Linked DNA regions of Homo sapiens. The protein of the gene in region 3 purifies or fractionates together with the protein of the main gene of each other region. This does not show direct contact. Each region holds a gene or a part of one and is shown on either strand. Other genes may lie near its edges.

Region 1 (3,755 bases), on a different chromosome or scaffold from region 3:
ATATTTGAGCAGAGACATGAAGGAGGTGAGGGAGTGAGCCTGGACATCTCAGGAAGAGCATTGGAGCAGAGGGAACCTTGCTAATGTAGGGATGTGCCTGATATGTTTGAGAAACAGCAAAAAGACCACCCAGGAGGGAGCACCATGGGTTGGGAGGAGAGCAGTAGGAAATAAATTTAGAGGTAACAGGACCTGGTTATATAGGGCTTAGTAAGGGACTGGAAAAATGTTGACTTTCAATCTGAGTGAGATGGGAAGGCATCACAGGGTTCTGAATAAAATGTTCTATTCTGACATTTAATAGGAACACTCCACCTGATGCAGAGAACAGTGACAGAGGCAGGCAGACCAGTAAGGAGGCTGTGGCCACAGTCCACACAAGAGATGATGATAGCAGGTTACCAAATGGGTACAGTGGAGGAGGTGAAAACCAGTTGGATTCTGGTTATGCCATGAAGATATTTTCAGGATCAAACAATACATACAAACATACTGGTGCATGGGCATAATGATTGATGATATCTGGTAGGGGTTTCAAGGTGACCTTGGGTGAAGAATAATCAAAGCTACATATTGGGTACAATGTACATTACTCGGGTAAGAGATGCAATAATATCTCAGACTTCACCACTGTGCAATCCATCCAGGTAACCAAAAACCACTTGCACTATTGCACAGCTACTGAAATAAAAAAAATACATATTTTTTAAATGTTACCACTCCTTTATGTTTTGGTTTTCAGAAATAAATTTTAAAAAATTTTTTAAAGAATAATCAAAGCAAAATCAATAGCATCTTTTATCCAGAAAAATAAGAGTGAAGAGCAGGAAAGGTTAACCTCATTAAGCCCTATGTCCTATGAGTGGAGATTTTAAATAATATATTAGTGATCACAGTCCAAAAACTCAGATTAGTCATTGTGCTTATCACCTGTGTTTGAATAACAATGTTTCTTTTTCTTTTCTGAATTCAAGTTCACAAACCATTTTGAATTTTTGCATGCCAATTATTTCCAGAATGCCGAACTGCTTAAAGGACATGAATATTACTCGGTGGAGCTATTAATGTCCCAGCAAATAAGAAAGAACAAGTTGTTTCCCTGTTGTTGGCTCTACAGCTCTATAGTTTTCCAGAGAGGGAGAAGGGTGGTGTTCAGATTATCATTCATGATGAAACTTTTAAAAGATGCTCAGCTGCCCACCAAATCATAGGATGAAGGAAAGGGCCTAGCAGAAACACAGTTGCTCTGACTTCCCTTCAATGGACAGCACCAAAGTCATACTGAACACCAGTTTTTAAACACTTCTCTGAAAAACAATAAGAAACACTTAGCCCTTTGCTACCAAGACCTGGTTGAAGAAAATGCTGTTGGTTCCCTGAGGGCTGGCTCTGTAGTCTTGTTCATTTCTGCATCCCCGATGTCTAACACAGTGCCTGGCATATAACAGTTGCTCAATAAACATTTGTTTGACTGAATAAACGATTCGAGAAGCCAATGGACAAATGTTCTTTGACATCATTCTATCCCTTTATGGAATGTCTATTACAAGCAAAGAATAACACAAGAGGAGTTTCATAATACTCCTCAGGCCCTGAGGCTAACCAGATCTGATTTCAGCCCTCACTTTACCACTACTCGCTATAGAGCCCTGGTCAAGTTCTCTCCACCTCTCTATCTATGTCTCAGTTTCTTCATCTGTAACATCAAATGAATAATAATACCAATCTCCTAGACTTCATAAGAGGATTAACAAAGACAAAATATGGGAAAAACATAACATGGCGTCCCATAATTATTAGATCTTATTATTGACACTAAAATGGCATTAAAATTACCAAAAGGAAGACAGCATCTGGTAAGTAAACTTTATTTATTTATTTATTTATTTTTTTGAGATGGACTCTCGCTTTATCGCTGCCCAGACTGGAGCGCAGTGGCGCGATCTCGGCTCACTGCAAACCTCACCTCCTTGACTCAAGCAATTCTCCTGCCTCAGCCCCACTGAGTAGCTGGGATTACAGGCACACACCGTCACGCCTGGCTAATTTTTGTATTTTTAGTACAGACGGGGTTGCACCATGTTGGCCAGGCTGGTCTGGAACTCCACACCTCAAATGATCCACCCACCTCCGCCTTCCAAAGTGCTGAGATTACAGGTGTGAGCCACCGTGTCTGGCCACATCTTGTAGATAAACTTTAAAAATCTTTTTTCTTTGTTATGAACAATTTTAAGTACATACAAAAGTAGAGTATAATAAACCTGACACCCAATTTCAACAGTTATCAGCTCATGGATGGTAACCCCCTTTCCCAGGCCTTTGTATTATTTTGAAGCAAATCCCAGACATGACACCATTTCATCTGTAGTACTATAATAGGTAGCTCTAAAAAAAAATAAAAATAATAACCAAAATTCCACATCACACCTAAAAACAATGAAAAATGATTCCTTAATTAGATAAATGGTTGGTCTGCTGGAAGCCACAAGAAGAAAGGAAGAAGAGAATCAAATCTGTTCAAGACAGGGGCTTAAGCAAGTTCTCTCCAGAGTCAACACGATGATGGAAATACCCGTTGTCACCGTCAAGGTGGACTCTCCCTGCTGCGGAGTGGGGCCGAGGTCGGGGGAGGGCAGGGAATGAAGCCAGCATTTCATGCCTGAAAGGAGGCAGAGCGGAGATCCCCTAGTGACTAAAACTTTCTTACTTCCCAAACAAAACAGCATTTCATTTGAAACAATTCTGTACAAATTCTTCTGCTTCCAGATTGATGGGAAATTAGAATTTAATTTTATCTTTTCATCTACCTTGAGGCCTTGTTGACAGTGTTGGCTTTTATGCAGGTTCTATTACACAACTAGAGCTAATTGAACAGTGACAGAACTGGTCTGGTTTGTGAAATTTAATAGAGCACCAAAGCTCACGTTTTGGGGAGAATTCAGTTCTTAAATATGTTTTGCTTATCCCACTCCGCCTAATTTCCCCTCATTTGTTTGACAAAGTCAGCAACCCAGTGGAAACCTCAATTTCGTTCTCTGCTGCTCTCATCATAAAACCTCGAATTTAAATATTTTCCTTTTATTCTTAGCTGGAACTTGGAGCAATTTGGTGGCTTCAAAATGAGATCTATTGGTATTGAAGCCATTGAACATCAATAGTGCAAACCCACATTATCATCCCCCATTTAAATACCAAAGTAAATGTGAAGTGGTAAACATTAGCAGGGAAGTGAATAACAATGCTGAGAAGGTTGCAAGCTAAGGAGCATGAAGAGGTGAAAAGGGAACATAAAACGTGCTGCATGTTTCTTCTTTCAAAGCAGAAGCTACCTTATAAGCACCAAAAACTTCAGCTGGAGGAGATACAAGCCTGGATTCAGAAGACTGCCGTAGAACAGAGGCACTGGGAAACCTGATGTTATCCACACAAACCTTTCCACATAGGGCTGGCCTCAGAAAGCATGCAGCGCAACTGCCCTCCAATAACTGAAATTTGTTAAATGAAAATTGATAGTGGCCTGGTCCACTGGGATCTGGTTTCTGAGGAAATTTCTGATAAGCTCTCTTCTAAGACCCTTTGCTCAGGAATAAGGTTTTCCCTGCGTGGCCCCAGCTCCACCCAAGGCCTCACAGTCTCAGGCACCCGAGTGTCTAGAAATGTTCACAGGTGCTGGGTCATGGGGTTGGGATGGAGGGTCTACACTTGAGAACAACTCCTCTGCTCCTGTCTGTATGCAGAAGGCCATTCTTCCCTTT
Region 2 (3,655 bases), on a different chromosome or scaffold from region 3:
TTTGACTTTTAAGTCTTATTTAAGAAATATATTTCATAAGGCTATAGCTACCATAGACAGTGATTCCTCTGATGGATCTGGGCAAAGTAAATTGAAAACCTTCTGGAAAGGATTCATCATTCTAGATGCCATTAAGAACATTTGTGATTCATGGGAGATCAAAGTATCAACATGAATAGGAGTTTGAAAGATGATTCCAGCCCTCACAGATGACTTTGAGGGATTCCAGACTTCAATGGAGGAAATAACTGCCGATGTGGTGGAAACAGTAAGAGAACTAGAATTAGAAGGGGAGTCTGAAGATGTGACTCAATTCCTGCAATCTCATAAGAAAACTTTAACTAATGAGAAGTTGTTTCTTATGGACGGGAAAAGAACGTGGTTTCTTGAGATGGAATCTACTCCTGGTGAAGATGCTATGAACACTGTCAAAATGACAACAAAGGATTTAAAATATGACAGAAGCTTAATTGATAAAGCAGGGTTTGAGAGGACTGACTCCAATTTTGAAAGAAGTCATACTGTGGGTAAAATGCTATCAAATAGCATCATGTGCTATAGAGACATCTTTTATGAAAGGGAGAGTCAACTAATGCAGCAAACTTCATTATTATCTTATGAAATTGCGATAGCCACCCCAACCTTCAGTAACTACTACCCTGATTGGTCAGCACCCATCAACATCGTGGCAAGACCCTCTACCAGCAAAAAGACTATGACTTGCTGAAAGCTGAGATGATTGTTAGCATTTTTTAGCAATAAATATTTTTAATTAAGGTATGTATGTTTTTTAGACAATTCTATTACACATTTTATAGACTACAGTATAGTATAAACACAGCTTTTTTTTTTTTTTTTTTTTTTTTTTAAGAAATGGGGTCTCATGCTGTCATCCAGGCTGGAGTGCAGTGGTGCAATCATGACTCACTGCAGCCTCAAACTCCTGAGCTCAAGTGATCCTCCCAAGTAGCTGGGACTACAGGCCTGTGACATCACACCCGGCCAAAACGCATAACTTTTATATGCAATGGGAAACAAAAAAATGTGTGTGACTCACTCTATTGTGATATTCAGTTTACTGCAGTGATATGGAACTAAGCCCACAATATCCCTGCGGTATGGCTGTACAGTATAAGAATCACCTGAAGGGCTTATTAAAAACAGCTTGCTTGACCCCCTCCCTTAGAGATTCCGATTCAGTAGATCTGGGTTGGTCAAGAATTTGCCTTTCTAACAAGCTCCCAGCTGAGGCTGAGGCTGCCATTCAACATACTACCAAGTAGCACTGGCATAGAGAGATCCCTGGAATAAAATGTACCTACTTGTGTGTGTGTGTGTATGAATGTGTGTGTGTGTGTGTGTGTGCGCATGTGCATGTGCGTGTGTGTGTGTGTGTACAGTCTTGCTCTGTTGCCTGGGCTGGAGTGCAGTGGCGTGATCTCGGCTCACCGCAACCTCCGCCTCCCAGCTTTCAAGCGATTCTCCTGCCTTAGCCTCCTGAGTAGCTGGGATTATGGGGTGCGCCACATCGCCTGGCTAGTTTTTGAATTTTCAGTAGAGACTGGATTTCACCATGTTGGCTAGGCTGGTCTTGAACTCCTGGCCTCAAGGGATCCACCTGCCTCAGCCTCCCAAAGTGCTGGGATTACAGGCATGAGCCACCATGCCCAGCCCCTACTTGTATATCACAAAAGTGAGATGATTACTTTTCAACTTTCTTCTTTGTATTTTTTAGGTATTTAAATTTTTTTACAATGAATGTTCCATCTTTACCCAAACAATAAAATCTTTATTGTAAAGAAAGTTAGAAGCAAGAAACATTAACATTTTTTATAACTACAATTTGTATAAAAGCTTTCTCTGTGATCTTTAGTTTTTCTTTCTTCCTCTGAAAAGCTGAATCGTGTTTAATTAAACTCTCAAAAGTATCAAGTTTTTGTCTATAAAATGGCAAAACTGGCTATGATGAAATAAACTGATATTTGCTATTTCTAATAAAAGCATACAATATATTTTTCTTTCTTACCAGATTCAAATATTTAACACCAACATATTAGTCCAAGTCCTATCATCAGTCAGATTTATCAGAAAGGTATGAAAACCCATGCCTACTATAAGGACCAAAATAGCCTAATTCAATACTACTTTGAAAACATGGGGATGATGTTATTATGTAATTGTTTTAAGTACAATAACCACTGATCACATTTGAACTCTCAGGATACTTCAATATTTCTTTTGGACAACTATGACCTGTTGAGTAAATTACCCCCAAATACTTTAATATAGTTTTACAAATCGCCCCAATGCCAGAGACCCAGATCAAAAAAAAAAATAATGGTATGGGTCAGATTCACAGAATAAGCACTAACTTTTATGCAAAATGAAAATAAAGATTTTATCTAAAAGTTATTTGGGGAAAATAAGCAGACTTTATCAAGAATTAGAGCTTGGTAAGAAGGTAACAGAAACCCATTGTTAGAAACAGGTTGACTCTGTGTAGCTTTCCATAGTAGAGTTCAGAGTTTCCTGTCATGATTCCCTTATCAATGCAGTGTAATAACTACTTACACAGCACTTACATTGTATTAGGTATTATAAGTAATCTACAGATGATTTAAAGTATATGGGAGGATGTGCATAGCTTATAGGCAAATACTACACCATTTTATGTAAGGGACTTGAACATTAATAGATTTTGGTATCCTCAGAGATTCCGGAACTAATACCCCATGGATGCCAAGGGACAACTGTACTTAGAGGTAGAACGTCTCTGCTCTTCCTACATGTCCTTATTTTTAACAACTTCTGTTCTTACAAATAATCCTAAGTCAATCAATAAAACTTCAAATTCTATTAACAGCTTAAAAGTACCAAGAAATACTCTGTTCATTCATTCAACTGCCAAAGAAAATGACAACCGAGTACTTTTCCTCTTTTAAACCAAAAAAAGTTTTTGGTTTAATACTAACAAAAGCTTTAATCCTCATTTTAGATATTCCTCTAATACATCTATTTACAATATATCACAGAACTATATTCTGGTTATTAATAATCTCACTTCTTACCAGGGTCTGCTAATCCAGTGGTCTCTAACAGTATGTAATCAAATTTCCCCTTCTTTTGCATCAAATTCTCAATAGCTCTAAGGCCACTGTCCCTGGAGAATACCAAAACATAATTTACAGTTAATTACCTAAATATTTTGAAGTGATTATTATAAACACTTTAAAATATATTCAACAACCCGAGACAAAAGTACCCTTGGGAATGTGAAAATTTAACTCACTTCTAACCTTCTAACAAAATGTCCGTCCCATATTTACCAGTGAGAAAACAATAGATGCATATATATAATAGGTAAAAAGAAATCATATACATAATACTTTATCAAAATTAAAAGCAGAGGAAACTTTATCTGACCAAGTATCTTTTTATAGCTTTATGAAATTTTTAAAAACCAACATACAAAATAATGATAAAATGTATTAACTATAGTAGTTTAATATAATAGCTAAAGAGACACTGATATTAAACACCATATAATTCTATTTTACATTAGGATGCAAGGTTTTAATTTCCTTTTTTCTTATTTTATCAAAAGTGAAGGAAAATCCTTAATAGATTATATTTTGGTTGTTCAAGAAAGTCTGTT
Region 3 (3,655 bases):
TGTCTTAAAATAAATTTTTTTAAAAAGACTATTGTTTTAACCCATTAAACTTTGGGGTGGTTTGCTACATAGTAAAAGCAAATATAATGTGACATTTTATAGACATTTCAATAACTTGTTTAATGCATTGATTGTTTTCCCTGCTTGGGAGCCAATAAACCTTTTTATTCAGATCTCAATGAGTCATGGGCCCCTCAGAAGGGGCTAAATCAGCCCTAAAAGTAACAATGTCTCTAAGGACCCTACTGAGATTGAATAGAAGTCAAGGGTTGATCCACAATCCAAACTCCAGGGAGGGCAACCCGCAGCAGGTGCACGAGGAACCTGACCTAATGTACAACACGGAGGAGGAGTCATTTCCAAACTTCAGACAGCTCCTGAGGGACACAGAAGACTCTCCAACACCCCAAACCTAGGCAAGACTCCAATCTTTCTGGCTATGAGAGGCTCGATAATAGCCCCCTGGTACCGATGACTATGTTATCTCCTATGGGAAAAGGGAGTCAGCAGATGTGATTAAATTAAGGATCTTGAGATGGGGAAATGATTACACAAGTAGGCCTAATAAGAGGTCCTCATACAAGTGTCCTTAGAAAGGGAATGGGAGGAGGAGGGGCAGAGTCAGAGAAGGGATGTGGCAATGAAAGCAGGGGCTGGAGTGATGGGCTTGGAAGATGGAGGAAGGGGCCACGATCCAAGGAATGCAGGTCACCTCGAGAAGTTTGAAAAGGCAATGAAATGGATTATCCCCTAGAGCCTCCAGAAGGAATACAGTTCTGCCAACACCTTGGTTTTAGCCCAGGGAGACCCATTTTGGACTTATTCCTGACTTCCAGAAATGTAAGATAATAAATTTGTATGGTTTTCAGCCATTAAATTTGTGGTAAGTTTTACAACAGCAATAGGAAACAAATGTACTGGATAATTCCTCCTGCCTACAAGAATGTAAGTTGGGACATTTATTCATAATAACAATAACAGCCAATAATAATTGCTCATATTAATTCAATGTCTACTTCATGCCCGGCTCTACTCTGAGTGCTTTTCATATAAAAACTCATTTAATTCTCATAAAGGCCATATGAAGAAGAGACTGTTATAATCCATACTTTACAGATGAGAAAAACTGAGGCTTTATGGGGTTAAGTAACTTGCCAGGGTCACAGAGCAGGTCAATGACACAGCACAGATTTGAACCCAGGCAGTCTGGCCCCAGATCTCACATTTAACCACTACGCTTCCCAAATCAACCTAACAATGATAATAAAATGACTGGAAGTTACTGAGAGCCCTCTGTGTACCAGGCTCATACCTAAGCTCATTACAAATACTCTCTCATTTCATTCTCACAGCACCCCAGTAGAGCAGAGATTATTAATCGTCCTTGTCTACAGCAGAAAAAACAGATGCAGCAACGTTAAACCCAGATGTTACAAGCATCTGAGACCAAAGCCCAGGTTTACCTGCACACCCTACTGCCTCCCTCATCCGTCTTGAGGCCCGGATGGCTGAGAAGACAAAGATAAGGAGCGCAACCACATAATTCACCTTCCAAACTGAGATACTTAGAAGGTGAAAGATATCATTATTACTAATTTCACTAGGAAAAGAGGCATAAACTAGAACTATTCCAGCAAACCAGGACATATGGCCACCCTAAAAATAAGGGGACTAAAATCAAGGCAAAAACTCTGCAGCTCAGGATTGCCCAGAAGGGGTGCCATGGAGCAGCTGCCAGCCCCGCAGGACATCTGCGGCTGCCAGGTCACGGTCAAGGCTGGAAGAAGAGGGGTGGTCCTGGCAGAGCTCAGAGCAGCATCTGCAAAGCTGCAGCCTGGGAGTCATTTGCAATGACAGGAACGCAGCAAGGATCAGCAGGGCCCGCTTCAGTGGGGCAGGTTTCAATTCTGAGCACTGCCTGTGCTTCCTTGGTCGTCTCCTCGCTGGCCCCGCTCACTCCTGGGGATGCCCAGGCCTGGGGGTGCCCGCAGTGGCAGGCGCTCACTCATTCCCTGCCACACGCTGCTCATTCATTAAAAGCCCCTGATTCCTCCCCGCTGTTCTAATTATGCACAGCAGTAATAAAGATGCTTTCTCCCTTACCAAAGAGGCCTATTTATATGAAAAGAGAGCATTTCGCCCCCACAAGATTGAGTCGTCACTCCAGGCCTTATTGGAATCAAAGCAGCTTCTCTTCTGAGATTGTCCAAGCCCTGCCTGACTCCCCTCCAGCTTGGCCCACTCCTGAGCATCCACATTTCCAGGAGCACCACTGCGGAGTGGGCAAGATGTAGACGCCATTGCCCTCTGCTGTGTTCCCTCATGTCTTGCTGACTGACACTCAACAAAAAGTAAGACATTTATTGAACACCTACTAGTGTCCTTAGTAAAAAAAAATGGAAATGAAAGACATAGTCCACGCCTTTCTCGGAAGAAAGAGCATTGAGAGAAACAGCACAAGATTTTAGGCTCCATGGCTGACTCATATCCCAACTCCAGCATTCACTGGTTGGGCAAGTTAGCAAGTTTTTCAAAGCCCTCAATTGCCTTATCAGCAAAATGGGGTAATAATAATGCCAGCCTCACAGGGTTGCTGGAGGAGTCAATGAGATACAGGCATACAAAGCTGGCATATCGTAGGGCCTCAACAAACACTAGTTGGAATTATCAACCATTAAGTACCGAAGGCTTTGGGACCACACAGGCAGATCTCATCCCGATGGATGAGCCCAGGAAGGCTTCCTGAGAGGTGATACCTTAACTGAGTTTTGAAGGATGAGTAGGACCTTGCTAAACAAAGAGAGGATGTCCCAAGCAGGGAGGACTGCATGTGTCCAGGGCCAAAGGCGATCACAAGGCTCTGGGAAACACAAGACACTGTGTAGGGACATACACAGAAGGCATGGGAGGACCACCAAGGCGGCAGACAAGTTGCAGCAGCAGATGTTGACACGGAAGTGGATCCCATAGCCAGAACCCTAACCTGCAATGCCCAGAGCATCACCCTGACCTTTGCTTACTTCCTTTGGGGGCTATAACCAGCGCCCTGTCACTACCATCTACAGCTTGGTGGCTGAAGGAAGTAGGGCAGCCACTCTCTATTAGCCGCAGGCCTACTCAACACAAGTCCCTGAGGGCCTATGACATGCCAGGCACATGCCAGGAGAGGCTGTTCAGCTTGACCACCTGGGGCCTGCATCCCATGGCCTAGGTCCTTACCTAGGCCCCCTTCCAGCTGTGCGCTGCTAGGACTGTCAGCTTTTTCCTCTGTGAAATGGGGATCACAGGGCGTCCTTCATAGTCATTCATTCAACAACAAACGTGGTCAGGGCTAAATGAGATAACTCAATATTCCCAGGTTTCAGCACACACTAAGTCCTCAATAAAAGTGAACGTTTAAAATGTTTATTTTTATTAAGATGAACCTCCAGGATGGCATCTCCAAAGCCCAATGCCAGGCCTCGAGAGATACCCTCAACCCAGGCAAAACTGCCTGCCCACCATCCCTCTCCTCAAGCCCGTGCCCTGGAAAAAATGACTTGGTTTCCACTCTTCATGTCTAGCCCTGACTTGGTCACCATAGGAGCCATCCCTGTCCGAACCACTCTGTCCACCCCCAATTCATCTCACCCTTCTAGGGCTCCATGTGTCAACC

What was found.
Region 1: the proteins of HSPA12A (region 3) and IL22RA2 purify together in Homo sapiens (co-immunoprecipitation; one large-scale study listed by IntAct). This does not show direct contact.
Region 2: the proteins of HSPA12A (region 3) and ZNG1A purify together in Homo sapiens (affinity purification with mass spectrometry; 2 studies listed by BioGRID and IntAct, with this or other methods). This does not show direct contact.

The regions. Positions count from the first base shown.
Region 1 is NC_000006.12:137,171,514-137,175,268, reverse strand, and holds the start of IL22RA2 (interleukin-22 receptor subunit alpha-2 isoform 1 precursor), read left to right. Parts: upstream 1-1,624; 5' UTR 1,625-1,856; intron 1,857-3,755. UniProt on the Homo sapiens protein: Isoform 2 is a receptor for IL22. Binds to IL22, prevents interaction with the functional IL-22R complex and blocks the activity of IL22 (in vitro). May play an important role as an IL22 antagonist in the regulation of inflammatory responses.
Region 2 is NC_000009.12:169,013-172,667, forward strand, and holds part of ZNG1A (zinc-regulated GTPase metalloprotein activator 1A), read right to left. Parts: exon of another isoform or gene 3,477-3,655; intron 3,161-3,476; coding exon 3,069-3,160; intron 1-3,068. UniProt on the Homo sapiens protein: Zinc chaperone that directly transfers zinc cofactor to target metalloproteins, thereby activating them.
Region 3 is NC_000010.11:116,735,990-116,739,644, forward strand, and holds part of HSPA12A (heat shock 70 kDa protein 12A), read right to left. Parts: intron 1-3,655. UniProt on the Homo sapiens protein: Adapter protein for SORL1, but not SORT1. Delays SORL1 internalization and affects SORL1 subcellular localization.